Homo sapiens: one gene and its partners. The protein of the gene in region 2 interacts with the protein of the main gene of each other region in a pairwise test. Each region holds a gene or a part of one and is shown on either strand. Other genes may lie near its edges.

Evidence for each region.
Region 1: the proteins of KASH5 (region 2) and BCL2L2 interact in binary tests that used the Homo sapiens proteins (3 or more experiments, as listed by UniProt).
Region 3: the proteins of KASH5 (region 2) and OLFM4 interact in binary tests that used the Homo sapiens proteins (3 or more experiments, as listed by UniProt).
Region 4: the proteins of KASH5 (region 2) and PGRMC1 interact in binary tests that used the Homo sapiens proteins (3 or more experiments, as listed by UniProt).

The regions. Positions count from the first base shown.
Region 1 is NC_000014.9:23,301,998-23,309,848, reverse strand, and holds the start of BCL2L2 (bcl-2-like protein 2), read right to left. Parts: upstream 3,017-7,851; 5' UTR 2,955-3,016; exon of another isoform or gene 2,902-2,954; intron 2,658-2,901; 5' UTR 2,570-2,657; intron 2,090-2,569; 5' UTR 2,082-2,089; coding exon 1,650-2,081; intron 1,034-1,649; coding exon 884-1,033; 3' UTR 1-883. Other genes in the region: BCL2L2-PABPN1 protein, read right to left, coding at 917-1,033, 1,650-2,081; PPP1R3E (protein phosphatase 1 regulatory subunit 3E), read left to right, coding at 7,273-7,689. UniProt on the Homo sapiens protein: Promotes cell survival. Blocks dexamethasone-induced apoptosis. Mediates survival of postmitotic Sertoli cells by suppressing death-promoting activity of BAX.
Region 2 is NC_000019.10:49,383,615-49,391,283, reverse strand, and holds the start of KASH5 (protein KASH5), read right to left. Parts: upstream 3,036-7,669; 5' UTR 2,957-3,035; exon of another isoform or gene 946-2,956; intron 707-945; exon of another isoform or gene 638-706; intron 496-637; 5' UTR 401-495; coding exon 358-400; intron 1-357. UniProt on the Homo sapiens protein: As a component of the LINC (LInker of Nucleoskeleton and Cytoskeleton) complex, involved in the connection between the nuclear lamina and the cytoskeleton.
Region 3 is NC_000013.11:53,024,228-53,031,890, forward strand, and holds the start of OLFM4 (olfactomedin-4 precursor), read left to right. Parts: upstream 1-4,585; 5' UTR 4,586-4,609; coding exon 4,610-4,813; intron 4,814-7,663. UniProt on the Homo sapiens protein: May promote proliferation of pancreatic cancer cells by favoring the transition from the S to G2/M phase. In myeloid leukemic cell lines, inhibits cell growth and induces cell differentiation and apoptosis.
Region 4 is NC_000023.11:119,231,442-119,239,372, forward strand, and holds the start of PGRMC1 (membrane-associated progesterone receptor component 1), read left to right. Parts: upstream 1-4,843; 5' UTR 4,844-4,922; coding exon 4,923-5,250; intron 5,251-7,931. UniProt on the Homo sapiens protein: Component of a progesterone-binding protein complex. Binds progesterone. Has many reported cellular functions (heme homeostasis, interaction with CYPs). Required for the maintenance of uterine histoarchitecture and normal female reproductive lifespan.

The DNA of each region.
Region 1 (7,851 bases), on a different chromosome or scaffold from region 2:
GTGCCTGAGTGGGAGAGGAGGGTGGCAGGCAGGTCCGGCTACCTAAGCCTCCACCCATCCAGGCTCAACAGCCCTGCCCTTCTATCAGAGCCCAGGAGGCAGCAGCAAGTGCATAATGCACAAGGAAGGGGGATGATGAAGGAACAAGGCCAGCTGCAGAACTGCTCTTCTCTCCAAAGCCTTGCCAATCACTTTCTGGAAAGAAGCAGCAGAGCCCTCGGTCTGGATACAATGTTTCTCTCTAAGCCTTGAGGCATCAGGACAAGGGCAGGGGAAAGGAGGGGTTGGGAGGAGGGACAGAGAACTGCCCCTAGTTCTTGCCATTGCAAGAGGGAATGTTTTCTCCTTGAGGAATCCCATCACCACCAGATTTGCCAGGCAGCCCAGCATGCACACCAGCATGCGTGCACATGCACACGCGTGTCCAAGCAGCCCACTGTTAACAGCCACCTCTCCCTATCACCTGAGAACCCCTAAGCTTCCATTCCAAAGGGATGTGCCTTCTGCGTTCCCTAAATCCCACTCATCTAATGGAATACAGCTGCTTATGTAAGTCCACCTTCCTCAGGGCTGTGAAGCAAGTTCCAGGTCGTTTCATGTGCCCACACCTATAGGCGTGATCCCTCCCACCTCCCCCAGCCCTGGAACGACTACATCTCCTGTGCCCCTAAACTTGCCAAAACATTCCCCTCCCCTCTGTGTCCTGCTCACTCTTCCAATCGCCTACCTGGCCTACTCAGCTCCCTCACACACTACCCTTTCTCTGCCCATCCTGTTCCATGCCCACCCATCCACCAACTCCACTTCTTCCAAGGGCATTTCTCTGTTCTGTTCCTGCTCTCCTGGCCCCCAGCCACACCTAGCCCCACCTGGCCCTGGACTTTCACTTGCTAGCAAAAAAGGCCCCTACAGTTACCAGGGCCCCCAGTGCCACGGCCCCCGTCAGCACTGTCCTCACTGATGCCCAGTTCCCCTCCCGCAGACGCCGCGCCTCCTCCAGGGCCCCGTCCCCGTATAGAGCTGTGAACTCCGCCTGTGGGAGAGAAGGGAAGCAGGAGAGAAAGAAGGAGAAAGGGATATCAGGAGAGGAAAGAGTGGAGAGAAGAGGAGAGGAAGAGTTCCAGTTCCATCCACTGCGAGCACTACCCCATACCCAGCTCCTCTCTGGCCAAAGCTCTTCTCCCTGCAAGCCCCTCTGATCCCCCCAGGTGCACCCCCACCCTGAGAGACTGGTTCATCTGCCCACTCTGCCTCCAGTGAATTCCATCCTTTCCTTGGCGAAAAATTCTGCTCAGAACTAGCATCCTTTGCCAAGGCTTGCCTGACCACCACCCATCCCTGGTCCTCCCCACCTCCCACGCCATGACTCAGATGTAAAAAGTCCCTGACAACATTCCCCTGCAGGCACTCCTTGGGTGTGTATTCTGTCCTCTGCTTGGGACCATGAGCCCATCCAGTGTTGACTGCATGGCAGCCCTGGAGTGCAGAGTCCAGGCATCTCTCAATCTAATTCCATCCAGACGGGGAGACTCAGCCCCGTACCTCATTCCCAACATAGCTGCCTCAGCCTCCAATCAGAGCCCCCATCTTCCCCCTGGAGACCAGCTTTGCAGAAGGATGTGCAGAGCGGCAATTGAGAAGCTTCTTACCCAGCCCCCACTGCTGTGGATCCAGTCAGCCAGCTGCGTCTCCAGGTAGGCCACCATCCACTCCTGCACTTGTCCCACCAGTGGTTCCATCTCCTTGTTGACACTCTCAGCACACAGTGCAGCCCCAAAGACAAAGAAGGCTACAAGGCGGCCCCAGTTGGGGCCCCCTTGAAAAAGTTCATCGGAGACCTGGGTGAAGCGTTGTTGGGCTGAGCCTGGGGTCACATGCAGCTGAGCCGCCAGATCAGAGAAGGTGCGCCGGAAGCGGGTCTCGAACTCATCTCCAGCTGCCCGCATGGCTTGGTGCAGCGGGTCAGCTGCTGGGCCCTCCCCGGGGCCAGCTCCACAGACATAACCCTTCTGCCTCAGCTTATAACCTACAAAGTCTGCCACCAGAGCCCGTGTGTCTGGGGCCGAGGCTGGGGTCGCCATCCGGGCGGCTATAAGAGGCAAGGATGAAAGACTGGCATGAATATATGAAGAGAGAATCAGAAGGAGCACTTCTGGTTTGACCAACCCAGTGAGATGAGGAGGAGAGAGGAAATGCTCAGGACTCACTGGACAGGGAGAGGCAAGAACAAGGGAATTAAGTCATGATATGAGACTAGGCTGTGAGTGGCTGGCCATTACATTCCTAATATGCCAAATTAAATGTAAAACAAGTAAATTTTCTGTTTAGGATACTTTAGATTCTTTTCACAATAAGACAACGTCAGCTCAATGACACCCCTACAACACCCCCACCCCCGGGTCTCCTTAGTCCACACCTTCTTGGCTAGAGGAAGGGTCTTAGGACCTCCCCAAATGCAAGATGTAAAGATGTTGGCAGAGACACAAGATGAGGGGGAGCAGATGGGCTGAAGAGAAAGGTGGGAGACGCAATGGGTTACTCCAGACAGAGAAAGGAAGGAGACACTCACCCAGCCGGGATGGCAGCTCTTAAGACACAGCACTGGTGGCAAGGAGCCCCCAGCTGGGGCCTTTCATCCTCCTGGCCAGCGTGGAGCCCTGGAAAGGGGAGGGGGAGATCAGAACCAGGAGGGGAAGGCCAGGGATCAGGTTCTGGCCTGGGAAGGGCTAGGGTTGCAGCTCTGGGCCTAGGCCCCTGCCCCCAACGCTCTACCAGCTGTGTGGCCGAATCCATGTTTAATGACTGTCCTCCCGGGAAACCCAAGGCCAAGGGCTTCCTGCCGACACCATCTCTATTCCCGGTTCCCCCTAGTGCAGCCCAAAGGCCCAGCTCCTCCCTTACCCCCACCTCAGCCAGTCTCCAACCCCGCCCGCCTGCCAGGTTAGGGATCTCACGGGTCAGGCCGCTGCCGGGATCCGGGCCGTTTCCTGGTGCAGGAGCTGGGAGGGAGGGAGAGAGGGAGGAAGGGAGGGAAGGAAGGAGGGAGGAGAAAGGGGGGGGCAGAGGGAGGGCCCGGCGCCGGGTGATGATGGGGCCCAGAGATGCGTCCAGAGAGAGGGGCGGGGCTGGGACGCAGGCCTGCAAAGGGCCACTACTCAGGAAGAGGGAGGGCTGCTGAAGGCAAAGAAGGGCTGGCTGAGAGGGCACGGTGGGCTGGGCTGGGCTGGGCTCCTGAGCCTCTAGGCTGCCCAGAGAAATATGCCGGACTTCGGGACATCTCGGGGCAAATTTAGCATTTTCAGGAGGTTTCCGATGTTCCATGCACTTGTTGAACTTTTCCAGCCCTGAACTGTGTGCCTGGAAAACAGGAGCAGTTCCCATTAAGCTGGGAACCGTCTACCAGGTGCCTTACCCTTATGGGGCTAGCAGACACCACATAGACACCAAACCTTTCCCATCTTTTCTCCAGGACCTTTAACCCAGTGTTCTCTTTGTGGGCTGGGCTTCAGCCAGGCATTAGGGAGCCAGGACTTGGATCACAAGCAGTTTCTCTCGGTACTTTTCTTTAATTCATCTTCTTTTGTAATTAGATTGATTTTAGTGGGGTTTTTTTCTTTTTCTTTTTTTTACCCAACACACAAACTCATTCTCATTATGAAAAAAATCAAACAATAAAGACGTGCGGAGTAATAAAATACAGGTTCTCAAACACACACACACATACACACCCAATTCCACTTCCCTCCCTGCAGGTTGCCAGTGTTAAGCTTGATGTTTATCCTTCCAGATTACATATATATGGGGCCATTATTTATACATGGCAGTATATTTATACAGGGCAGGTCACAGGCGTGAAGCAGTCTGACCATAGCTGATCCACATGAGGGCACTCACAGCCAGCCCCCTGGGCTCTTGGATCTGGCACTTTTTTAAAGAGTGCCCCAACCAAAGGCCAGAAAGAGGCAACCTAATTCTCCTATTCTGCTAGCTCCCTTTGCTTCTACCTCCAATCCAAGCCTCTGTATTACCATCTTCCCTTATGGTCACTGGAGAAGCAAGGTCTTTTCTGCAGCAATAACAGTAACAACTAGCTGGGTTCGGTGGCTCATACCTGTAATCCCAACACTTTGGGAGGCCAAGGCGGGTGGATCACTTGAGGCCAGGAGTTCGAGACCAGCCTGACCAACATGGCAAAACCCCATCTCTACTAAAAATACAAAAATTAGCCAGACGTAAAATACAAAAATTAGCCAGCCTGTAATCCCAGCTGCTCAGGAGGCTGAGGCATGAGAATCACTTGAACCCAGGAGGCTGAGATCATGCCACTGCACTCCAGACTGGGTGATAGAACGAGACTCTATCTCAAAAAAAAAAAAAGGTAAAAACTAACATATTTTGAGGAGTTATTAGATGCTGTGCTTTTTTTACATGTGTATTTTTTCCTCTCACCAGTCCTTATGCTGTTTTATCCTCATTCTATGAATGAGGAAATTGAGGTTTGGAGAGGTTAAGTGATTTTCCCAAAGCCATAGGCTGATATGTAAGAAGCTAGCACAGCCATCTCATGCTGTAACTTTGACACTATCGCTTCAAGATCACCTCTTGCCTTCACATAGTCAATATGGTTCTCATAGTCTGAATCCACACCATTTACAAGTCCATACTCAATTCTCTCCTCTATTCTAAACACACAGCCTATTACACTCCTTTATGGCTGTATCCTTTCAACCATCCTCATTTCATTTTTGCTCTTAGCCTGATCATTCTGGCTGCCACCAGCAAGGTTGCCCTCTTCTTTAGAGAATAACCTAGTCCAAGTCTTCATTTGCACTCCTGGTTTATTTGTTTGTTTGTGATACAAGGTTCTCACTCCATGGCCTAAACTGGAGTGCAGTGGTACAAGCACAGTTCACTTCAGCTTCCACCGTCTAGGCTCAAGCAATCTTCCCACTTCAGCCTCCCTGGTAGCTGGGACTAGAGGTGTACTGCACCATGCTTGGTTAAATTCATTTTTTATAGAGATAGGGATCTCATTATGTTGCCCAGACTGATCTCAAACTCCTGGGCCAGCTTGATTGTAACATAAATTAATGTATGATTTATTAGACATTAATTTATATGCATTATATATATTATATTGTATATGCATATACAATATATACATTGTATATATTGTATCACATATAATGATACGAAGAGAATACATCCATGCATTCTATATACGTGTAAAATTTAAAAAGTCAATATTGCTTTAAAAATGAGTCCTAGCTAACTAGTATTGCTACAGTCAATACTAGTGCGAATGCATGTAAACAGGAATGAATTGTATAATAATAAGATAACATGTGTCTCATGGTTTATTTTCAACTTAGTCACTTGTGGTTTTACAGTTAAACTATCCTGCTGCTTTAAATTTAGAGACTTCATTTCTACTCTAATATTCCCTCTTTTAACACTCTGAGGATGTTAACTATTATTGTTAAATGTTTTAATCTTATATAACCAAGCGGGTAAGAGCGTGGACTCTAGAGCTAAACTGTTTAGGTCCTAATCCCACCTCCCCAATTATTAACTATGTGACCCTGGGTAAGAGTCCTCTCCCCTCTCTCCCTCAATTCTCTCATCTTTAAACTAGACATAATAGTCTCTATTCCTCTGATGGTTGTATTACATGGGTTAGTATTTGTAAAACCCTTACAACAGTACCTAGCACATTGTAAGTGCTATATTAGATCAGTAGGAAAGTTAGAAAAAAACTAAAAACAACTTCACTTTTTTTTTTCACTAATGTTAAAAAAAAAAAATGAAAGGGGAAAAAGCCAGCTCTGCCCTTCTTGGAAGCTCCCACTGGACCTATAATTCCACAGTCCCAACTCCAAGAGAGTTGTTGGGTGCTTGTTCATTCAATAATTTGAGTGCCTACCATATACTAAAACTCACCATGAATCAGACAAAGCCCCTGCCCTCAAAGGGCTTACACTTGGATTAGAAATCAGAACTCCACCACTTTTTTACAGATAAGAACACTGAGTTCAGAGTATGGCTCTGAGTTCAGGGGTGGCTCACACCTGTAATCCCAGCACTTTGGGAGGCCGAGGCGGGCAGATCACCTGAGATCAGGAGTTCAAGACCAGCCTGGCCAAGATGGTGAAACCCCGTGTCTACTAAAAATACAAAAATTAGCCGGGCGTGGTGGTGGACGCCTGTAATCCCAGCTACTCAGGAGGCTGAGGCAGGAAAACCGCTTGAACCGGGGAGGCAGAAGTTGCAGTGAGCCGAGATCACGCCACTGCACTCCAGCCTGGGCGACAGAGCGAGACTCCATCTCACACTCACACACACACACACACACACACACACACGAGAACACTGACTCCAGAGAAGTTATGCCTTGCTTGCTCAAGGTCACTAGAAGCTAGGTCTTCCTGCAGTTCTCAGTTCGGGTGCCATATTCTCACCTTCTATTTGAAAGACTCTACCTAGCTTTCATGACCTTTCCTTCTTTGCACGCACCACCACCCCCTGCCCAAACCAGGAGCCTAGGTTTCAGAAAAGAAAACAGTGAACCCCAAAGATAAAGTCACATGCTGGGCGTTTTGAACCTTCCCCTGCAAGAAAATGAAAGGTTATTTTTTCTTCCCGGCGTTAACCTTTCCTGTGCTGTGCCGGAAAAGTTGAGGACTTTTTACATTTTATTATTATTATTATTGTAGAGATCAGGGGTCTCACTATGACGCCCAGGCTGGTCTTGAACTCCAGGCTTCAAGCGATCCTCCCACCTCGGCCTCCCAAAGTGCTGGGATTTGAGGCGTGAGCCATCGCGTCCCGTCCGTGGATGTTTTTTTTAAAAGGTTGAGTAGCTTCACTCGGGACCGCAAAGGTGGAGTCCCCGCCCCCTGGTGCAGCAGCGAAGACAAGCGGAGCCACCTGTCAGAGGGCTGTGGGCGGGGGCGCCCGGGCCGTGAGGGCCTTGGAACCGGAGGGTGAGTGCAGTTGAGCGCACGCTCAGAGCAGACCGCTAGCAGGAGGCAGGATGTGATAGTCTAAGACCCTGGAAGCTGACGGCCAGAGGGAGGGAAGGGTGGTCACAGAGGAGAGGCAAAGCAACGGGAGGTGGAGGATCCTGGAGGTGTCTGCAAGGAGAATACACAGCAGCGAGGGGCTGCAGAAGCGGACCCAGCGACTTCTGCGCTGACGCGGGGCGGGCGGGAGAGAGGAAGAGAGGGGAGCGCGGTGGCGCTGCGAGCTGGCCCCGCCGGGGAAGGGGCTGCCATGTCCCGTGAGCGGCCCCCGGGCACCGACATTCCCCGCAACCTGAGCTTCATCGCCGCGCTAACGGAGCGCGCCTACTACCGTAGCCAGCGGCCCAGCCTCGAGGAGGAGCCGGAGGAGGAGCCAGGCGAGGGCGGGACGCGGTTCGGGGCCCGATCCCGCGCTCACGCACCGAGTCGGGGCCGCCGGGCCCGATCTGCACCAGCCGGAGGCGGCGGGGCCCGGGCGCCCCGCAGCCGTAGCCCAGACACCCGCAAGAGAGTGCGTTTCGCCGACGCACTGGGGTTGGAGCTGGCTGTCGTGCGCCGCTTCCGTCCCGGTGAGCTGCCCCGGGTGCCCCGCCACGTGCAGATCCAATTGCAGAGGGACGCCCTCCGCCACTTCGCGCCCTGCCAGCCCCGCGCCCGCGGCCTCCAGGTAGGCGGCGGGGGCACCTCCCCTCCTGGGGACCTCCTCCAGTCGGCCGCAGCGGGCTTGTGGGAGTGGATTTGCCAAAGAGCACCCATCTCCATCCCATCCCTGGGCTTGCGCCTGCCCATCCCTTTTGGGGACCCCATCTGCGAGTGGCTCTAGGCCACC
Region 2 (7,669 bases):
TGAGCACTGTGAAGAGAAATGAAGCGGGGCAGGGGAGAGAGTGTCACAGGGCAGCTGCTTTACATAAAGTAAGAAGTGCCATCTGGGCCGCGATCTGAATGGAGTAAGGGGTGCGGCTGCTTGCGCTCTCACACAGTCCAGCCTCCCCACAGGAGATAAGGGGTAGTGACAGGTGGGCGGGCATAGAGTAGGCACTTAATCTACCAGAGTCCCTTCCCTCCCTTCCACTCTGCACCCATGCAAAGGCTCAGCCACCCCCAGCCACCTCTCCCAAGTCCCCGAGTCACAGCCTGGCACCCATTCACCCATGGCTCCCTCCTCACCCTCCCCGGGGCAAATAGGGTTCCAGCCACTTACTTTCCGCAGTGGGGCCACCCACCGGGCCCTCGGGCAGGTCCATGGGCCACCCCTGCCGCGGCGCAGCTGCTGGCAAAGCTACCAGCCTCCCTCCTTCATGGGGAGGGATGGGAAAAGGACCAGCTGGCCCGAGCACTCCTGGAAGGAGAAGCAGGAAATGGTGTCCTCAGAGCAGCCACCAAGGGTCGGGGCCTGCCTAGCCCCACCTGTGCCCCAGGACCTCTGGGTCCTCACAACCTGTTTGTCACCCCCGCTGTGACCTGAGCAGCTCCGCTCTGACCTGTTTTATGGATTGGAGGTGTGGGCTGGAGAACGAGGTGGCTGACATCAAAGGGGCTAGTGGGTGGGTGGGGGAGGTCACTGCCTCCCTTTCTTCACATGGCTTGCCGCCGGTCCAGGCTGCCTGGTCCTCTTCCCTGGCCTTTGTCCCAGCCTCCTATCCCCAGGCTTGTCCTCCAGTCTGTCCCCACAGGGCCCCAGAGCTGACCTGCCCCTCCCCTGCTAAGTACCCTTCCATGGCTCCCTGAATCCTGGGTACGGGTGAGACCCTGGCCCTGACGCCAAGGCCCTGCATGGCTGACCGCCCACCTCAGCACCCCAAATCGCACATGATGCTCCAGCCACTCTGAGCTGCGGACCGCTCCCATGCCCAGGTCTCTGCCTGGGACGCCCTCCTGCATCCTGCTTCGGCTTCACGTGGCCTCTTCCGGGAAGCGAGGGGCCGTGTCTGGCTCCCACACAGCCCTGGGCAGCTGCCATTCTTGCCACATCAGCCTGGATTTGGCCGGCTGGCTTCTCATGGGAGTTTGATCCTGACTTGCCCCTGCTCCTGATCCTCCCATGGCTCCCTAATGCCCCCGGACTAAGTTCCAGTCCCTCAGGCTAGAGTGGCATTGAGTAGTCTCTGAAGCTCCTGCCTCTTCCTGTCCCTTTTCTCTCCGTCGGGCAACCCCTAGGTCTCTCCTCATCATGGCCCCAAACCTGCTGCTCCCCTGGGTTCCAACTCAGGATGTACATGGTCCCCCAAGCCCAGGCCACCTCCTCCTCATCCCTGCCAGCCCCACTTGCAGCTGCTCTGGGCAGTCCCTGCAGCAGTGACAGGAGTTTGGGGGGCCCCATCCTGCCTCCATTCCACCCAGGCCGACCCAAAACCTTAGTGGCCGCACTCTGGGGGCTAGAGAGAGACCTGGGCGCTGCTATCATCACAGCGGGCACGGGCGCCCCTTGGGGCCACCAGTCGAGCCTGGGCTCGCCTGTCCTCACCCAGCTCCCCCAGTGCCTGCTCTCCCCAAGCCACGTGAGCCCGCTGCCACCGTTCTGGAAACACGGGTCTTTGAAGAGAGGCCCTTCCAGGGTCTGGAACACCCTGCAGGGTGCAAAGGGGGGCGATGGCCTTGGCTGGGCCCTGGCGCACGGAGTGGGTTCGGGATGGAGTCCTGAGGGACCCCGGGGGTGTTGGTTGATCTCGGGGGTCTGACGGGACTGAGACGGGGACACTGAAGCAGGATGGGGCCCTGGCAGGAGCTCTGGGTGGTGTGGGCCTTGGCGGGCTTTCAAGGGCTCTGACAGGATTTTGGGGGGGTCTCTGACTGGATTTCTGGGGAGTGTCTGGCTGGATTTTGGAGATTTTGATTTCTGTGGGGGTCTCTGACTGGATTTCAGGGGTCTCTGGCTGGATTTCGGGGGTCTTGATTTCTGCGGGGGTCTGATTGGATTTCTGGGGGTTCTCTGACTGGATTTTGGGGGTCTTGATTTATTCGGGGTCTCTGGATTTTGGGGGTCTTGATTTATGCGGGGGTCTCTGGATTTCTGGGGGTCTCTGGCTGGATTTTGGGGGTCTTGATTTCTGCAGGGGTCTGACTGGATTTCTGGGGGTCTCTGGCTGGATTTGGAGGGTCTTGATTTCTGCGGGGGTCTCTGAGTGCATTTCGGGGTCTCCGTTTCTGGGGTGTCTTTGATGGACTTCTGTGCTCTCTGACGGAATCTGAGGTCCGACTGGGTTTGGGAGGGGACCTGCCAGGATTTCTGGGGATCTCTGACACGAGTCTAGGTGGCTCTGCTGATCTGGGGAGAGTAATAGGATTTTGGGGAAAGTTTCTGGCAGGCTCTGAGGGAGAAGTCTGACAATTTCTAGACGATTCTGACAGGATTTCGGGGGTCAACTATAAGATTTCCTGGTGGACTCCTTTCAGTATATCTGAGGGGATGTGGTCAGGATTTTTTTTTTTTTTTTTGAGACGGAGTCTCACTCTTGTCACCCAGGCTGGAGTGCAGTGGCGCGATCTCAGCTCACTGCAACCTCTGCCTTCCAGGTTCAAGCAGTTCTCCTGCCCCAGCCTCCTGAGTAGCTGGGATTATAGGCGCGTGCCACTACGCCTGGCTAATTTTTTGTATTTTTAGTAGAGACGGGGTTTCACTTCCCCGGGATGGTCTCTATCTTCTGACCTCGTGATCCGCCCGCCTCGGCCTCCCAAGTGGTCAGGATCTGGGGGGCCCTGACGCAGGGGTATCTCTCCCACAATATGGGGGGGCTTCGCTAGGATTTCGGTAGGGGCTGGGAAGGGCCATTCTGGGAACCTCGCCGCGGGGCAGGGCGCACCTGGAGCCACGTCCTAGTCTCGGGACACAACGGACATCCACGAACGACGAACGGCAGTTGAGTTGGGGGAGGTGCGCGTGAGCTTTTCCCGCCAGAAAAAGCAAAAGGAGGCGAGGGGTCGCGAGTGCGCGTGCGCAGCGTCTGAGCCCCGCCCCTCCCCGCCCGGACTCCTCTTAAGACGCAGGTGCAAACCGGCGGCCGACGCGTGTCACGCATGCGCGCTGGCGGTGTGGGCTGTGGCCACGGAGTTTGTCTGGTGGTGGAAGGAGGGGGTGGCTGCGCCCGCCATGCTGGGGCTCGTGTTTTTCTCTTCCGCTTCAGGCTTTGGTGAAATGGGCTGAGGAAGGGGGAATTGAACTGAGAGACTCCTTGTCCGTCCCCCATTTCTTTCTTTTTTTTTTTTTTTTGAGATGGAGTCTCGCTCTGTCGCCCAGGCTGGAGTGCAGTGGGACAATTTTAGCTCACTGCAACCTCCGCCTCCCGGGTTCAAGCAATTCTCCTGCCTCAGCCTCCCGAGTAGCTGGGATTACATGCGCCCGCCACCACACCTGGCTAATTTTTGTATTTTTAGTAGAGACGGGGTTTCACCACGTTGGCCAGGCCGGTACCGAACTCCCAACCTCAGGCGATCCACCCGCCTCGGCCTCCCAAAGTGCTGGGATTACAGGCGTGAGACACAGCGCCTGGCCTGTCCTTTTTATGTATTGCCATATTTTCTTTTCTTTTCTTTTCTGTGAGATCCCTGTTGAGTTTTGTTAACAAGGCTATGCTGATATAATGTGTGGAGAAGTGTTCTCTCTTTTTCTATTCTTTGAAAGTGCTAGTGTAGGATTGATGTTATTTATTTTTTATGTGTTTGGAAGAAGTCACCAGCCATCTGGACCTAGAGTTTTCTTTGTGGAAAGACTTTAAATTACAAATTCTATTTCTTTTATAAAAATACAACTATTCAGATGTTCTATTTTATTTCTGGTAAGTTGTGGTTTTGGTAAGTTGTGGTTTTCAAGGAATTTTTCCATTTTATCTAAAATTTCAAATAATTTGCATAAAGTTCATAATATTGTCTTTTTTTGGAGGGGGAGAAACACGGTCTTATGTTAGGCTGGTCTCGAACTCCTGCCCTCAAATGATCCTCCTACCTTGGCCTCCCAAAGTGCTGGGGTTACTGGCATGAGCCACCATGCCCAATCTTTTTAATATCTGTAAGATCTGTGGTGACGGATATTAATAATTTGTGCCATCTCTCTTTTCCCCCCTCCCTTCCCCTCTGCTCCTCTCCTCCCCTTCCCCCACTCCCCTCCCCTCATCTCCCCTCCCCCGTACCTTCCCCTCCCCTCCCGCCTCCCTTCCCTTCTGCTCCTGTCCTCCCCTTCCCCCACTCCCCTCCCCTCATCTCCCCTCCCCCGTACCTTCCCCTCCCCTCCCCCTCTCTTCCCCTCTGCTCCTCTCCTCCCCCCACTTTCCTCCCCTCATCTCCCCTCCCACCTCCCTTCCCCTCCCCCTCCCTTTATCTCCCCTCCCTTCCCCTCCCTTCCCCCTCCCTTCCCCTCCCTTCCCCTCCCTTCCCCTCCCTTCCCCTCCGCGTCCACTGCCTCCCCTCCTCCCTCCCCTTCCTCCCCTCCCCTCCCCCCTCCTCTCTTTCTGAGACAGGTTCTCACCCAGGATAGAGTGCAGTAATGTGACCCTAGCTCACTGCAGCCTCCACCTCCTGGGCTCAAGTAATCCTCCCACCTCAGCCTCCTGAGTAGGTGGGACTACAGCCATGTGCCCTCAAGCCCCTGATCTTGCTGTTTTTTTTTTTGTTTTTTTGTTTTTTTTTTTTGAGACGGAGTCTCGCTCTGTCGCCCAGGCTGGAGTGCAGTGGGGCGATCTCGGCTCACTGCAAGCTCCGCCTCCCGGGTTCACGCCATTCTCCTGCCTCAGCCTCCCGAGTAGCTGGGACTACAGGCACCCGCTACCACGCCCGGCTAATTTTTTGTATTTTTAGTAGAGACGGGGTTTCACCGTGTTAGCCAGGATGGTCTCGATCTCCTGACCTCGTGATCCGCCCGCCTCGGCCTCCCAAAGTGCTGGGATTACAGGCGTGAGCCACCGCGCCCGGCATGATCTGCTGTTCTTTTTCCAGCTTTTTCCCCCCAACTTCTTGAGGTGAATGCTTAGGTCACTGATATTTTTAGGTTATTAAGCCATTGATTTTTTTTTTGAGACGGAGTTTCACTGTCACCCAGGCTGGAGTGCAGTGGTGCGGTCTTGGCTCACTGCAACCTGTGCCTCCCGAGTTCAAGCGATTCTCCTGCCTCAACCTACTGAGTAGCTGGGATTACAGGCGTGCCCCACCATGCCTGGCTAATTTTTTGTATTTTTAGTAGAGTCGGGGTTTCACCATGTTGGCCAGACTGGTCTTGAACTCCTGACCTCGGGTGAGCCGCCTGCCTTGGCCTCCTAAAGTGCTGGGATTAGAGGCGTGAGCCACCGTGCTGATGCCAGGTCATGTGCCCAGCCAGGTCATTTGATTTTTAAAGATCTCTTCTAATACATGCGTTTAGAGCCATCATTTGCCTTCTAAAAACTTCTGTAGCTACACTTGACACATTTGTTATGCCACATTTCTATTATTATTATTATTTTTTGAGACAGAGTCTCGATCTGTCACCCAGGCTGGAGTGCAATGGCACAATCTTGGCTCGCTGCAATCTCTGCCTCCTGGGTTCAAATGATTCTCCTGCCTCAGCCTCCCGAGTAGCTGGGATTACAGGCATGCACCACCACACCTGGCTAATTTTTGTATCTTTAGTAGAGATGGGGGTTTCTCCATGTTGGCTAGGCTGGTCTCGAACTCCCGACCTCAAGTGATCTGCCTGCCTCAGCCTCCCAGAGTGCTGGGATTATTGGCATGAGCCACCATGCCTGGCCACGTTTCCATTATTATCAATTCAAAATATTTTCTAATTTGACCTGAGTGATAATTTTTAGAGATATATTGCTTACTTTCCAAATATTTTATGACTTCCCTGCTATCTTTTTATTATTTATTTATTTTTGAGACGGAGTCTCGCTTTGTCGCCAGGTTGGGTGCAGTGGCGTGATCTGGGCTCACTACAACCTCTGCCTCCTGGATTCAAGTGATTCTCCTGCCTCAGCCTCCTGAGTAGATGGGACTACAGGCACGCACCACCACAGCCAACTTTTTTTTTTTTTTTGTATTTTTAGTAGAGACGGGGTTTCACCATGTTGGCCAGGATGATCTCGATCTCTTGACCTTGTGATTCCTCTGCCTCAGCCTCCCAAAGTGCTGAGATTACAGGCGTGAGCCACTGCGCCCGGCCCCCTGCTATCTTTTTATTATTGCTTCCTACTTAATTCACTGTAGTCAGAAAACATACAAACATACTCTATATGATTTCATTTCTTTGACATTTGTTGAGATTTGCTTTATAGTCCACGATTTCATCTATTTTAGCAAATGCTTCATGTGTATTTGAAAAGAGTAGCTTGGCGTGGTGGCTCATACCTGTAATCCCAGCACTTTGGAAGGCCAAGTTGGGTGGATCACCTGAGGTCAGGAGTTCAAGACCAGCCTGGCCAACATGGTGAAAGCCCGTTTATACTAAAAATACAAAATTAGCCAGATGTGGTGGCATGTGCCTGTAATCCCAGCTACTCAGGAGGCTGAGGCAGGAGAATTGCTTGAACCCAGGAGGTGGAGGGTACAGTGAGCTGAGATCGCGCCACTGCACTACAGCCTGGGCCAGACAGAGCGAGACTTCATCTCAAAAAAAAAAAAAGAAAAAAAAAAGGCCAGGTGTGGTGGCTCACGCCTGTAATCCCAGCACTTTGGGAGGCTGAGGCAGGCGGATCACCTGAGGTTGGGAGTTTGAGACCATCCTGGCCAACATGGTGAAACCCCATCTCTACTAAAAATAAAAAAAAATTAGTCAGGCATGGTGGTACACGCCTGTCTTCCCAGCTACTCAGGAGGCTGAGGCAGGAGAATTGCTTGAACCTGGGAGGCAGAGGTTGCAATGAGCCGAGATTGTGCCACTGGACTCCAGCATGGGCAACAAGAGTGAAACTCTGTTTCAAAAAAAAAAAAAAAAGAAAAAAAAAAGAAAAGAACAGAGTGTGTATCCTGCAGGTCAGCTATGTCAGGTCAAGTTTGTCAATCATGCTGTTCAAATCTTTAATATCTTCACTGTTTGCTTCTTGTACTGAATGACTGTGGATTTTTCCATCTCTCAGTTCTGTCATTTTTGCTTTATATATGTTGAAGCTGTATTATTAAATGCATACAGATTTAGAATGGTTATATCCTCCTGGTGACTTGACCCCTTTATTACCTTGAAATGTCATTTTTTACTTCTAGCAATGCTTTTTGCCTTAATGGCTACTTTGATGTAGAGATTTCTCCAGCTTTCTTTGGTTAGTGTTTATATAGGGTATCTTTTTCATCCTGTAACTTTCCATCTTTTTGTGTGCTTATATTTAAGGCATGTCTCTTGTAACAGCATATAGTTGGGTTTTGTTTTATGCTGACTGCTGATTTTTGACTTTACCAAAACTCTTAGTGAAGTGTAATATTTATATAGAACAGTCCATAGATCATAAGTGATAAGCTTTATGAATTTTCAGAAATTGAACACATCTGTGTTATCTAAACCGAGATCAAGATACAACATACTACCTGCCTCCAAGATTCTTCCTCATGGCTCCTTC
Region 3 (7,663 bases), on a different chromosome or scaffold from region 2:
CCTCATGAGCTAATCACCTTCCAAAGGCCCTACCTCCTGATTCCATCACTTAGGGCTTAAGATTTCAACCTTGAATTTTGCAGACACAAACATTCAGTCCATAACACAGAGACTGAGAATATTCGGGCAGGGAAGTAACAGCAACAGAAAAATAGAAGGTATGACTAAATTTGAAAATGCTTCAAATCGCTGCAGTGGTCGTACTTAAAATTTCCGGGTGACAGTGTCCCATAGGTGCAGGAAGAGTTTGCCTCTTTCTCACAGTTAGAGGTGTAGGAGGTTAGACATGTGCAACTAACTATGGAGACAACAGTTGTCACTCAGAACCCAGGTGCTGTAGCTCAGGTGGTTTGGATGGGAGGCAGGCAAAGGCTTCTGTATTGGGACAGATGAGCAAGGCAAGTACGCTCTTTGCCTCTAGCTGCAGAAACCAACTGACCTGGCCTTGGAGGAACCCGTGGGTGATTTACAATATCCAAGAGGTATGGGATATGAAAAACCCAGGTACTGATGTTGAGGTGAAGTGAAGGTGTGCTTCAATGCTTAGTCGGGAGATGGCAAGAGGAATTTAGAGGGCAGTCTGGTTCTAGGTCTCTGGGCAGATTCCATCTAGTAGGGTCCAGAGATAAACCTGAAGTTTGGTGTCTCCTGAGTCCATTCACCCCTTGTGATGGTGGTGGGGAAAGGCTTCTGGGCACTGTTATGGCTCATTAGTCCAAACTTTCTCTGTGGAGGGTGTAAAGCTTCTCTTTTTCCCCCCAAATTAGTACATGCTACCTTTCAACACTTCAGTTGTTGCCTTTCTGCATTTGCGTAGAAGTTTGCCCTGTTTTCCATTAGTTGCCATTTTTACTAGTTTGGTTCTGCATTTTGTCAACAGGAATGATTTTGCTGCAGATTGAAAACATAAGTATTTGGCTGAAAATTCTGTAATTGGGGGTTTTGATCTTCTAAACCACAATAACATGGCAAAATTTAGGTAGTTCTTGATATAGGATAGGCTTAGGGAGTGAGAATGTTGATTTGGTGTTCAGGTCAGGCTGAGGAATAACCTTAAGAACTCGAATCCAAGTATGAGTTGCTAGAGTGGGCTACATGAGATTGTAGGTACAAGGGCATAATCATGACCCTGGAGAGAATTTGAGTTGCCTATGTTCTTTAACTTGTACAATTTCTCTTGCTTGGAAATCACTCCCTTTTCTTCAACACTAATTTTTAAAAAAATAAGTATTTTCTCCAATAGTTATTTAAGAATTTCCTTCACAATTCTTATTAAATCAATCCACTCATTCATGCATGCATGCATTCATTTATTAAATATATTCCTCAGTGTACAAACGTTTATTAGACACCAAATGCCAAGCACTGGGCTAGGTGCTGGAGATTGAAAACCAATGAAGCCATGGTCTCCATCCCTAAGAAGCTCAGCACCTGGCAAATTCTTCACACTTCAACCCATCTTGGGTCTCTGGAGTCTATCCAGTCATTTCTCAGTATTCATTTAACTGGTTTTGTGTTCAATTTGTGTTTATTCCTAGTATATTCCCTGAAGTGGCCTGCCTTCCGTAAGTGACTAGGCATTTTCATTAGAAAAAATTATGCATTCTTCTTTCCTTATCATCATAGGGCCTGATGTTCTGCACAGAGTAGGCTCTAACACACACTGTTAACTGAGGGACCACTTTCCAGGGTAAATAAATGGGGTCAGCTGATTATTACTTATATACACGATTGTTGATATTGCTAATAGAAATTTGAGGGTTGTTGACGATGTAGTCAACTGATATGAAAAGCCTCTATTACCAATCTGTAGACCAAACACAGCCTCTGTTTTCCTCATATACACCAGATACCCCATAGATACCCTCCTGCAAAAATGCAGCAGTATGTTTGATTTTTAATGACAGGAGGATTAAATTAAAGTTATGTCTACACGGATGTCTTCCTTGTGTGTTGCAACTGTTCAAGAAGTACGGTTTGGGGAGGTCCCCTAATGAAGTGCATAAATAGTAACTTTCTTTCAAACTGTCAGTGAAGATTGCTGTATTACTCATGTGAATTTCGGTGACCCCTTACTCTAGAAGGAGCCCAGGGTAGAACACATTTTTACAAATAATACACTTTGCTTTGCAGCTCTGATAATTTTGTTCCTGTCTTTGAGTCTGTCATACAACCAGGAGGCTGCTTGTTTCTTAGGACAAAGGTATTTGCAGGGAAACTGATCAAACTATTTTTATTAATAATCTCATTATTATTAATAATCTCATTACGGAGGCATCACCAATGCTTTTGTGCATTTGAGGGCTACCAAATAGATTAAAGTTTTATTCTGGAAACTCTGGAGCCATACAAGAACAAAGAAGCTTATGAGCACAGTGGGTGGTGGTTCTTCCCTGGCTAAGGCACATTTGTGCTTGGGAGAACTGCTGTCCCATTTCTGCAGTATTGCCACCCCTCTGGTAAGGGGTCTTCTAATGAATTGGCCATAGGAGACCTTAAAGGTAGTCATGACTACAGGCTATACCACTGTTAATGAGATTTTCTTTCTGACAGGGCACCAACATGCTCCTTGAAAAAAGGTACAAGGAAGGCTCATTACAGCCACATGCAGAGGCTACTAGCAAATGAGAACAGATTTGCCATTTGTTTTGGTGGGAATCGGGAGGAAGAGGGGAATTGTGCTGGGAGGTAGAGACACATTCTTCTCCTTATGTCCATATTCATTGCATTCAATCTTAGAATAATGGATTCAGTCTCCCAGTTTTCATTCTCACACATTCTGTATGCATTCCCTGCCTTGGACTGGGGATCTAAGTGGTTAGAACATTTGACCAAAGAGGCCAAGGCTGAACTGCTTCCCACAGAGAACAATGAACTTTACAGCCCACATTTCTCCCTATCTGTTCTTCTTCACTCTCTATCCATCCATTTGTGGTTTTCCTGTCTCCCCTTCCCCCTCCCCACCACCCCAGTTTCTGAATAGTGTACCAGGGGTTTAAGACCCTGTTTCTCACATTAGCACTGTGCTTATTCTGAGAGTTTGTGTGGAGCTTCTGGGGTGGGGTGGAGTGGGGCATGAACCTTCTCTCCTTGTTTTGAACCCAGCAATCTTACATATTGATCTAGTCTTTAGGAAATTAAACAAACAATGAAAAAGCTGACATTTTTATGGCACGTCAAAAGTCATAAGCAACTTCCCATACAATATTTCATTTAATTCAAACAATTTAGGAATTGTTACAACCCTAGAGGGGCTAAGTGACATGCTCAAGGCCACCGACTCATTGTGACACAGCTTTTTTGTTTGTTTTTGTTCTTTTGAGACAGCCTTACTCTGTCACCCATGCTGCAGTGCAGTGGTGTGAACATGGCTCACTACAGCCGCAACCTCCCAGGCTCAGGTGATCCTCCCACCTCAGCTTCCCAAGTAGCTGGGACCACAGGTGCATACCGCCACACTTGGCTATTTTTTTCATTTTTTGTAGAGACAGGGTCTCACCACATTGCCCAGGATGGTCTCCAACTCTTGAGCTCAAGCCATCCTCCCACCTTGGCCTCCCAAAGTGCTGGGATTACAGGTGCGAGCCAGCATCCCCGGCCCAGAGCTGGGTCTTAATACCGAGACTAACACCTTTTTCTTTCTCCAGGGAAGAAGGCAGAGGTCACAAAGGTGTGTGAAATGTTGAGCAGGGCAAATGGATCCTGGAGCCCAGGGTCAGAGCTGCTGAGCAAGAGAAAATGCATCTTATTTCTCAGTTTTATGAAGAATAAGCTTGAGATCTTGAATGCCTGGCTGGCTCACAAGAAGCTCAGGGGCAATAGAGGTCAAAGTTTTCTGGAGAGAGAAACTGCTCCTGGGGTCCTCCTTGACTGGGTTTGAGGCAGTGCCCTGGCCTGGGAGAGCGGGCACTGGGTCATCGGGATCCCTTTGTTTATTTGGGTGTTTTCTCTTCCCTATATGAAGCATACAGTGGTGAGTACTTGATAGGGCAGAGTCCTACCTGGTTGGCCAGGGAACAAAACGTTGCTGGTCTTTCCTTCAGAGTGGGGTTGTTAGACAACTTTGTCTAGAAACAGTCACTGTAAGGAACAGGTCAACGACAACTTGGGCAATAGGAACTGAAGAGGGAAGCTCAGTCGCTCCTGGAGGAGAGCCACAGTCCCTAAGGCAAGTTCCCTAACTGTCTGTGAAAAGTAGTATTCAGTAAAATGGGGGAGAGCACTAGAAGTGCTGTGAGGCAAAGGACTGAGGGTTGCTTTTCCTCCATGGAGCCTCCAAACTCTGTGTCATCCACAAAGACTACTTTGGTCTCATCTCTTTCAAGGAAGTACCAAGTGGGAAACCAAATATTGGGCTTTACAAAGCACATTTGAGTTAATGTTTGGCAGGGGATATCTGGATCCAAGGGCAGCTCACAGAGTGGGCCTCACTGACAAGGTGTGGGCCATGACTCAGATTCCTGGGTGTCCTGAACCTCCTGGGGCAGTTCACACGTTCCCTGGCCACTCCCTCTTTTCCTACATGCTGGCCATGGGGAAATCACCACTGGGCACTATAAGAAGCCCCTGGGCTCTCTGCAGAGCCAGCGGCTCCAGCTAAGAGGACAAGATGAGGCCCGGCCTCTCATTTCTCCTAGCCCTTCTGTTCTTCCTTGGCCAAGCTGCAGGGGATTTGGGGGATGTGGGACCTCCAATTCCCAGCCCCGGCTTCAGCTCTTTCCCAGGTGTTGACTCCAGCTCCAGCTTCAGCTCCAGCTCCAGGTCGGGCTCCAGCTCCAGCCGCAGCTTAGGCAGCGGAGGTTCTGTGTCCCAGGTGAGGAGGCCCCAGAATCTGAATGAGCTGCATTCATTCCCTTCCATTTGCTTTTGGGTACCTGAATACAATTTCATGGATGGCTAGACCTGGGCACTCTAAAAGATTTACGACTCATTTTGTTAACTATAGGTGCCCCGGAAATGAATTAAAGCCTCAGTAAAATAATTAAATTGTTAGCAAGAGAGACGATATCGCAGTTCTCCAGCTGGGACTTTTGGGAATATCTATGCTTTAGAGGAATTCTCAAATCTGGCTGCACATTAGAATGGGTGGCCGGGGGGACTCTAAAAGTACAGATGCCTGGGTTCTGTACTTAAAAAAATCCTACATAGATGTATACAAATCAAATATTTTAAAAAACCTCTCCCCAGGTGATTCTAATATATAGTCCAAGATGGGAACTGTTAGGGAAAGACTCTGTGAGTTGCAGCTCTGGGAAGTTTGTCCAGTTGTTTTGCTGCCTGGCAGGATCCCGGAATGGTGAACAGTAGCCCTCGAGGGAGTGAGAGCCGCAGTGCCCTAGTTGAAGCCCTGACCATTTCTCTTGGCCTGGTTTATAAAGGAGGTGGGTGTCAGAAATAAGGGGGGAGTTACTGGTCTTTAGCAAAGTGTTATTACCAGTGGACATTCGCCTAGGGGAGTGTTCACTCTTTGCAGTCTTCTTTACAGGGAATCTTCAGGACCATTTCCAGCTCCAAACAACAGTAGCAACAAACAAACAAAACCAAAAGTCATGCATTACAACGAGGCTGGTACAGCTAGGCTAAGTGCATTGAAGGCATAGTAAGCCAGTTCCGTGGGGGATGAGTCCTCTTTGGATCTCCTTTAAAGAAAGGAGAATGGGCTGGAGGGCATGAGAGGTTAGGAGGTAAGAAGCAGTTATTCATTTCACTCTGGGCCTTTCTGCGGGAACCCCACTCTGCAAACCTCCTAGGCTATTTTTGCTAAGGTATAACTTGGGGTGGGGGAGTCTTATCTGGGCCAAAGCTTCTCTCTCTAAGCCTCTAGGATCTTTCCTCACAGGTCAGGTAGCTGCTTACATTATCATGCTTGAATGGAAGGGCAAATGGGAGAAGGGGGAGGAAAAGACTTTTATTTGTTTTATTTTGACCATCAGAAATTACAGATAATAAAAATGTGATAATTAACAAATGATTTGGATAGGGCCTAGATAGAAACAGCAGCAATAACATTTACTGTGTGTCTAATAAATGCCAGGACTAGGTTAAGTACATAATATATATCTTTTTGTTGTTGTTGTTGTTTGTTTGTTTTTTGAGACAGAGTCTCATTCTGTCACCCAGGCTGGAGTGCAGTGGCACGATCTCGGCTCACTGCAACCTCCGCCTACCAGGTTCAAGCGATTGTCCCACCTCAGCCTCCTGAGTAGCTGGGATTACAGGCACCCGCCACCACGCCTGGCTAATTTTTGTATTTTTAGTAGAGATGGAGTTTCACCATGTTGGTCAGGCTGGTCTCGAACTCCTGACCTCATGATCTGCCTGCCTCAGCCTCCCAAAGTGCTGGGATTACAGGCATGAGCCACCGCACCTGGCCTGTATTATCTTATTTAACCCTAAGAGGTAGGTACAATTAATGGTCCCATTTTAGAGATGTGAAAACTAAGGCTTATCAAGGTGAAGTCATTAGTTTTAAGTCACTAAGCTAGCAAGTTATATAGCTCAAAATTAGTCTGTCCATTCTCTTCACCATGTCTGTACATATAGGTTTCTATATTTCCAAGGAGTATAGATGAAAATTGCTTATTTTTTAGTTAGAGGAGGGAGGCTTGGGAATCATAAGTAGGCACAAGGATTCTTTGCAGTCAGAAATCAGTTACATAAGTTTATTCTGTGATACTCAATGATTTCTGGGGATGATCAGAATTGTCTAGCACTCTTTTTTGGACTGAGGTTAACAATAATAATTTATTATGAAGCTCCATCACCAGTCAGAAACCAGCATTTGGGTAAGATTATCAACTATAATAATAGAAAATAAAATACAGATCAAGAAACAGAGAAATCCAGAATGCCTATTGTCTGGTAAAAAGACAGATATTTAAAAGTAGATGAGACATGGTAGTTAAATTGGACTTAGAGGTTTTAATTTTCCTTTTTACTTATCTCTCCCTGGTGAGTCAGTATCACAACTCCAACTTTTTTTTTATACTGGACTAGGAGTCAATTTCACTATCAACCTAATTTTCTGGGGCTGGCTGTCAGCTTGATGAGCTCTTTGGAAGGTGGTAGAAAACCCTTTTATAACTGTCATTGAGTAAGTTCCAAACATATCATTTTCTGTACTTTGAAAATGTTGAGTACCATTATTTTATACCTTGAATCTTTGCTGACACTTAGCCTTGGCTACTAATTAGAGCCAGTTGCAACATTAAATCACCTTAAATGTGAGTTGCACCTTCTGCTGTAAGCACTCAGAGTACTCTCTGCCTCAGACGTCTCCCTCCTGAGGAGGGGCCTCTGCAGGGTCCTCAATTCACAAGACTAGGAAAAGCCTCAATGCTCACTCCACAGAGTAACTGGTATAGTTGGAACTGCAACGAGTCACGTGTTTTCTTGTCATCAGGCTACAAGGCTGGTTTGAAAAAACAAGTAGGGCTTTCAGAGTGACAGTGGGCCTGATTCCTGGGCAGAAATTGAGTCTTAATCATCTCCCTAAAGCCAGAACCTGGCATAGTGTAGACATCAGTAAATGTTAATTGAACACGTGCTTAGGGAAAACCTACCAATATAAGGTGTCTTGTGAGGTACTCAGGGTCCTATTTGCCCTACAGAAGGGGAATCGCATATTCTTCCAAAGGCCAAGGGGACAAGCTCTTGTCTTTGT
Region 4 (7,931 bases), on a different chromosome or scaffold from region 2:
TTAGGTGCATTTCCTTCAGATTTTTTTTTCTGTGCATGGGTATTTAACATAATGGGCTTCCATATTCAAACTCAATTCCACAAATATTTATTGAGCACCTACTACATGCCAGGCACTATTCTAAGCACAAGGAATACAACAGTGAAGAATATAGACAAAAGCCTCTGTTCTTGTGCGCCTTATGTTCAAGTTGGAAGAGATAAAAAAAATGAGAAGTGATACTGTATATAAGGAAGCAGTAAATGCAATGGGGGAAAATGAAGCAGGGAAGGAGGATGAGGAGTAGGAAGAAGGTGGTGTGAGATTTGAAAGTAGCGAGGGAATGACCCATGAGAATGTCTGGGGAAGGGCATTCCAGACAAATGGAATGACAAGTACAGAGGCCCTGAATTGGAAATATGGCTGCTTGTTCAAAGGGCAGCAAGGAGGCCACTGTAGCTGTAGTAGAGTGACCAGGGAAGAAAGTGGTGAGATCCTAATGTCTTAAAGGTAAGGGTGGGTAGAGTACCGCAGATCCTGTAGGGCCTTGTAGGTGCTATAAGGACTTGAGCTTTTACTCTGAGTGAGATGGGGAGCATCTTTGGATACTTAGGCTGTTTCCAGTTTTTTGCTATCATGTATCATGCTTTGTGATTCTTCTACTCAAATCTCTGTTCACATCTCTGAACACTTCCCTAGGGGAAATTCCTGGAAGTTAAATTTCTTGGCCACAGGCTAGGAATAGTTTGAGGCTTTTATTGCATATTGCCAAAGGACTTTCTAGAAAGCCTAGACCCTTTTACAATATAATTAAGTTCAACAAATATTTATTGCATGCCTACTATGTGCCAGACATGGTCTAGGGGCTTGAAATACATTGGTGAACAAAATGAATCTTGCATTCTAGCAATTTCACTCTTGCCAATTGTGTCAGAGTGCTTGTTTTACTCTGTGCTTGCCAACACCAAGTATTACCATTCTTAAAAAGCTCCAAGAAACAAGAGAAAAAAGAACACTCCAGTCATTTGAATGATGAGAAATGGTGCATTGTTTTTATGTTCCTTTGGATTTATTTGCTTCCTTACTAGGCTGAATTATTTCCCAAACATTTTCTAGCTAATCAGCCAATTGTTCTATTTTTCTCTGAAAGCTCTTTAAAACCTTTGAAAATAATTAAAAGGAGACAGAAAGTTTGAAAACACTAAAAGACTTAACATGTATCTTGGGAAATAAGTAGTCCTTGGGTCAAGTACATCGGCTTTAGGAATTGACTTGGAGCCAAAGAGCATATTAAGGCAACTCTCATGTTCTGAAGGGGGCTTTTTATTCAGGAGCACTCTTGCTTATTTCCAGATAACTTGAGAACTGCCACCCTGGAGGAGACCATTCCACTCAGCATTGATTCTGACATGAGCCTGAATGATGGGATGCTTTTCTTCAACAATCTCTACATCCCAGTGTTAGCTAATAGCCCACTTTATTGAACATCAAATCTGGTTTGCAAGCATTTATATTTTTAAACTGTATCACTTCTTGAGGTCTTAAGTTGCACAAGTTTTCTACCCTCCTTGTGAAGCAGGACTTCCTTTAATCCATTATCCTCCAAGGGGACACAGAGGTGTAGCAGAAGAGACACTGGACTACGATAAATGAGAATTATTAATCCTCCCCATCCCTCCATGAAAACACTTTCCCCAGATTTAATAGCGGTTACCTTTGAGGAAAGAGAATCAAGAGTGAGGAGAGGGACTTCAGTTGTCTTCTATATCTTCCCATAGTTTGAATTTTCTAACTTTAGACAAATATTACTTTGAAAAAACATTCCAGCAGGGGTTATCTGGGTGGGGAGCTAATGGCTTGGTTTTTGTTTTGTTTTTTTACTCTGTGTCTCTCTTTATTGGAAAAAAATGATAAAACTTTTATTATATAAAATTTCCCCCAGTTTTATAAAACAAAATGTGTGTGTGTGTGTGTGTGTGTGTGTGTGTGTGTGTGTATGTTGCATGTCTGCAAGAATATAAGCCAAACTGCTAATGTATGGGCCTGATTTAAGTACTGTTTGGGGAACTTGGAGAGGGAGAAAGGAGTTTCATTTTTTACTTTATACACTCACGTATTGTTTAAGTTTGTTATAGTGAACATGTATTATCATTCTACATTTTTTTTCAGAAAATAAATAATAAACCATTTTCCCCCCTGAGGTTAAAAGTGACACATGCCCATTGTGGAAAATGTAGAAAGGTATAAGGAAGAAACTAACAATCACAACAGTTAACATTTTAGCATATTTCTTTCCACGCTTTGTTTTATGAATTTTTTGACATAGTTGAGTTCATACTGTATATAGTTTTGTATCCTGTTTTTCCCTCAAGATTAAAACACAAGCGTTTTGCCATGTCATGATTTTTGGTAAAAGAATTTACCAAAACAGTTTTAGTTAAAAGAAGGTAGATTTATTAGATAAAGTAGGAAAATATGTTGTCAGAGAGACAAAGGGCAGCCTGCAAGAGAGAAGCCAACTGCCAGGAGACAAAGGCTTGCTGGAAATTTTATAGGATGGCGTTTATGCTGTCTGTTGAAGAGGTCTTTGTGTAATATTGATAATGCCAAGGTCGCAATGAGCTAACTTACAGGTGTCTGGTGATAGCTGGGCATGGGAAGATTGTGAATTATTTGCGCAGGAAGGCTGCATCTTGGTCATGAAGAAAGGGAGATTTGTAGCTTATTTGCTTTTTCTTTTTGCTATTTCATGCTCCCACCAGCCTGATTCCCTTTCCCTAATTAGGACTCCAGAATGATGATATTTGAATGGCCTTTTAATGGTTTTGTCACAATTCAAGTGAATTAATTCGCCATTTTATTTGAAGTCGGACATTTAGGTTGTTTCCAGTTTTTCTGTATTAAAAATGAATCTCTGCTGAGCATCTTAGTAATGAAATATTTGTCTGCGTTTCTGTCTCCTTGGGATGGATTCCTGAAAATGGAATTACTAGGTCAAAGAGCAGATTTCTAGAAGTGGGATTAATGGATAGAAAATATTTTTATGGATAATAAAAGGTTATACCCAACAGCGTATGTGAGTCTCACCACTCTCTCGCCAATAGTGTGTTATCCTTTTTTTTTTCCCTTTTATCTTTCCTGTAGAAAAGTAGTAGGTGACAGCGGCATCTCCATGCTTTTCTTTTTGTTACTAATGAGACTGAACATTTTTCATATGCTTATTCACCACTGGCATGCTCTCTTTTGTGAACTACCTGTTCCTATTTTTTCCCATTTATTGACTAGAATCTTATACATTTTCTTATCAATCCAAATGATCTCTCAAATAAATATTAACCCTTTGTCATATTAGTTGCAAATGAAAATATTTTATAAGTTTATTAGCTTTCTAAATTTTCTTGGCCATACATGTTAAAAGAGATAGATTCTAACTATAGACAAGTGCCCTCAGTTTGAGCCTGTTTCTCCATGATTAAATTGAAGAGTTTTGACAAAAGATTTGGAGGGGCTGTTTCAGCTAATCCCAAATTTAGCTCTGAGAAAAATGCCTGGGCCCGATACAAAGATTGTTTGGCTCATTGCACTTTATAATGATTTAAGAAGATGTGGGGGGCAGGGATGGAAGCAGTTTTTGCCAGAAATTTTTAGAATTCTGAGGTAGGAAGCCAATCTTTACTCAAGTCTCTTGCGTGTTGGGAGGAGGAGTAAGTTATGTGCAAGCCAACAGAACACTTGGTGGAAAAGTACTGCTCTGGGCTGCAGATGTGTGCACGGCTTGGTTTTAATTATTTGTTTCCCTCTCTATCCTTTCTTCTCCTCCCCTCCCCCCGCCACCAGAAAAAGGGCCAGATTAGGACGAGGCAACCCCTTCCTCCGTGGAGGTCTGCTTCTGTGCAGCCTGTTAGCACATCAAAGGCCGGATGAAATACCTAGGAAAGGAAGGGACCAGGCCTAGGATCCTTCCAAACTCCCGCCTTTGTCTGGGCTCCAGCTCAGGGTTATTGTGACTGCCAAGGGTAGCCTGACAGACTCCAAATAGAAGAACGCTGCCAAACAAAGAAACTTTCACATTATTCTGAGGGGGGAAAAAAGAGCAACAAGAGAACGTTGCTTGTTAATGCCTGGTGACTGAGCAAATCAGTAATTGCAAAAGGGTTTTTCGGAGAACAAACCCAAAGTTAACTGGGCGATCAGATTCGTTTCCCCAGATAATAGGGAGAGTTGTGCACTGACTTTAGCAATCCCGGGGGTGTCGGTCCCACAGCATCTGGGGGAGAATTGGGGAAGGGCCATCAAGGAGAGCGAATGGGGGTTCCCAAGGTGAAAATGAGTCGTGTAGGGCTCTAACATAGAAAATGGAGTTCGAAGAATGAGTTTCCTGTCTCCTAAGACAGCTTGGAGGGCCCGGGAACGGCAGGGGGAAGATGAGGGGCTTCAGAATGGGAGGCAGGGAAAAGCCTGCAGCAACAGAAAGGGAGTCGGTGTCTGGCGCGCATCAGGTGGCGGAGGGGCGCTCGCACAGAGCCCGGCAATGCCGAGGCCCTCCCAACGGGTCGGTCTGCGAGGAGCAAAAAAGGGGTTCAGAGGAGGGCAGCGCGTGCGTCGCGCTCAGCTATAGGATGGCGCGAGGATGGCGTGAGGCTGGGCTGGGGCCTCCCAGGTAGAACTGAGGGGGGCACCGCGCGGCCGCGGGGGAGCGGCGCCGGACTCTAGAGGCTTTGGAGGGGGCCTGAGGGCTGCGGGGCGGGACCGAGCAGGGCGGGGCGCTTAGGTGGCCTCGGGGGAGGCGGGGCTTGGAGGCTCCGCCCCTCAGGCCCCGCCTCCTCCCCGGCTAGTCTTTGGCCGCCGCCGAACCCCGCGCGCCACTCGCTCGCTCAGAGGGAGGAGAAAGTGGCGAGTTCCGGATCCCTGCCTAGCGCGGCCCAACCTTTACTCCAGAGATCATGGCTGCCGAGGATGTGGTGGCGACTGGCGCCGACCCAAGCGATCTGGAGAGCGGCGGGCTGCTGCATGAGATTTTCACGTCGCCGCTCAACCTGCTGCTGCTTGGCCTCTGCATCTTCCTGCTCTACAAGATCGTGCGCGGGGACCAGCCGGCGGCCAGCGGCGACAGCGACGACGACGAGCCGCCCCCTCTGCCCCGCCTCAAGCGGCGCGACTTCACCCCCGCCGAGCTGCGGCGCTTCGACGGCGTCCAGGACCCGCGCATACTCATGGCCATCAACGGCAAGGTGTTCGATGTGACCAAAGGCCGCAAATTCTACGGGCCCGGTACGCGGCCGGCGAGGGGGGCTTGGAGACAAAAGAAGGGGGCCCCGGCACGGGGCTGGGCGGGAGAGAGGCGAGGCGGGAGCGGGGCGCCCCTGAGTGGAGGGAGGAATGGCGGCGAGCTAGGGTAGGCGGGTAGGCGGGCAGGCGGAGAGCCGGGAGGCTCCCGGGGCGGGCAGGGAACAAGAGGCGCTCTAGAGGGGCTGCGGGCCAGTCAGGGACGCGGATCCCCGGCCCGCGCTGACAGCGCTGGGAGGGGGTTAGAGAAAGAAGGCTGAGGCGCTTAAGCCGGGGGTGGGTGGGACCACGAAGCTCGAAGGCGTTGAGGGGGGACACATCAAAGCCCAGGCTGTTGGGGTAGTTTTCGAAGGTCCTGGGCTTGGGGATTCCTGGAAGGAGGAGGGGGTAGTGTCGGGTTCTAGGAAGGAAATGAGGGTGTTCCGAGGGAGGCATGGGGGAGGGCGAGAGTGAGAAAAGGTCCAGACCTAGAGAAGACGGGAAGGCCAATGACACCGGGAGTAGGTTTGAAATATGAGGGTGTGGGAGAAAACGCCGAGACGGGATTAGCAGCAGGTAAAAGCTTTGTGCCCGGTGGATAGTGATGTGTGTGTGCACTCGTGGTGTGTGCATGCGCGGTGTGTGCGTGTTTAGTGTATGTGATTTATCAGGGGTGTGTGTGTGTGGTGTGTGCATGCGCGCTTGAAATGGGTCATGCGTCAGGTATGTGTGTGGCATGTGTTTGGTCTGTGTGCGCTTGTGCTGTGTGTGGCAGATGGGGAAAGGCTGGAAGGTGAACAAGGAGGAAGGGGGCTGTTTGAGGGAGGAATAAAGGCTGAATATGGTGGACAATGGTAACGTGGCAAGCTTTTAAGGTAATATGGTATTTAGTCTATAGCAGGAGAGAAAGGATTAGAAGCCAAGAAAAATTAAAATGGAGGGAGGGAGAAGTGGGAGGATACCAAGAAACAAAAGGAGTAGAGCTAAGAAGACTGCTGGGTGGGGGGATATCAGGAAAAGCCAACCAGAGGGAAATGAAGAATGGATGACTGCTGCACTGCTGAGCTGTTGGAGAAGGCAGGCCTGATGGGTTCCTTAGAGGCGAGGTTTTTGCAAACCTGGTTGCGTATCAGAATCACCTGATGCATCTGAGGAAAAATACAGATTCCCAGTCTAACCGCCAGAGCTGCAAATGAGTCTCGGGTGGTCCGGGAGTCTGTATTTTAATATGCTTCCCAGGCGAATTTGAAAAGCAGCCAGGCTTGCAAAGTCCTGCTTTATAGAATACTTGGAGATGAGGAAGAAGAGGTTTTGGCTCCTCCAATATGGACTCCTCTAAACACAGGGAGCTTAGAGGATGTCCACATGGACGGTGCTCATTCCACACTGGCCTGAGAGAGGGAAGAGTACAGAAGGCAGTACACAAACTCAGGCATTCATTTTAGTCTCCCAGTCCAACTGATCAAAATCAGATGTGTTAAGGTTAAGGAGCTCAGTTTTTTCTTGCAGACATTTATTTATTATAAAAAATAAATTTTATTTATTTTTTAGAGACAGGGTCTCCCTCCTGTGTTGCCCAGGCTGGTCTCGAACTCCTGGGCGCAAGCAGTCCTTCCACCTCCATTTCCCAAAGTGCTGGGATTACAGGCATGAGCCACTGCACCGGGCCTGTGGATATTTTAGAATACCTGCTTTCTATAGGCATGTAACTGTCAAAATCATTTGAAAACCACATACATTATTTGTCACTTAGAGTAGCACACATAGTTGCTTTATCAATAAACATAATCATGTAAATACCTGTTAATATTGAGCTCAATATTAAAGGAGTGAAAACATGTGCATGAGGCATCATCATGACTGTAGTTTGCAGAGTCATTGAGAGGATGTCAGCCTGTGCACAGAGCACAAAACTGGGAGTCAGGCAACCTGCGTTCTAGTCCTGATTGGGTCATGACTAGCTGTGTGACCTTGTGCAAAGCATTGTTCTCTCAGAGCCTTAGTTTTCCCTCTGAAAAGTGATAAAGATGGCCTATTGTGAGATCTCTGTCTCTATCTTGCACTGTCATTCAGTGAGCCCATGACTACGTGACATCTTGGTAGAAAGTGATGCTTCATGTTGTAAAGGATTCCTAAAAATTAGTCATTCTAGTGCCTGTTAATTCTGTGCAAGGCACTGTTGTAGATGTGGGAATATAGCAGTGAGCAAAACAGACACAAATCTCTGCCTATGGAGCTTACGTTCTAGTGAATATATGTTGCACTGAATAATATGTATTTTTAAAAGACTTTTAATGTTCCCACTAGAGAACATTTAATTGTTTAAATGTTTAAATATTCTATGAGGTTTAAATATTCTATGTTTAAATATTCTATGAGGTTTGCTTGGTAAAGACTCACTCTACCAAGCCAATGACCATAATTTCTGAAATGGTAAGGTTCAAACCATTGCATTTGCCTATTCTCAAGCACTAGGTGCTGCCATTTCCACTAGGGGTGTACATTTATGAAAAATGTGGGCTTTTTTTTACCTTCTTTAGTGAATGTGGCAGCATGTAATGATGATTAAAAATAAGCATTTTTCTTTGGAATTTTACTTGCATTTAAAAGTTGTAAAATTTGTAAAAAATTTCTGAGTGTATTGAGGTTTCAGGTGAACAGGCCATATTGAAACTTGATCTATTCTC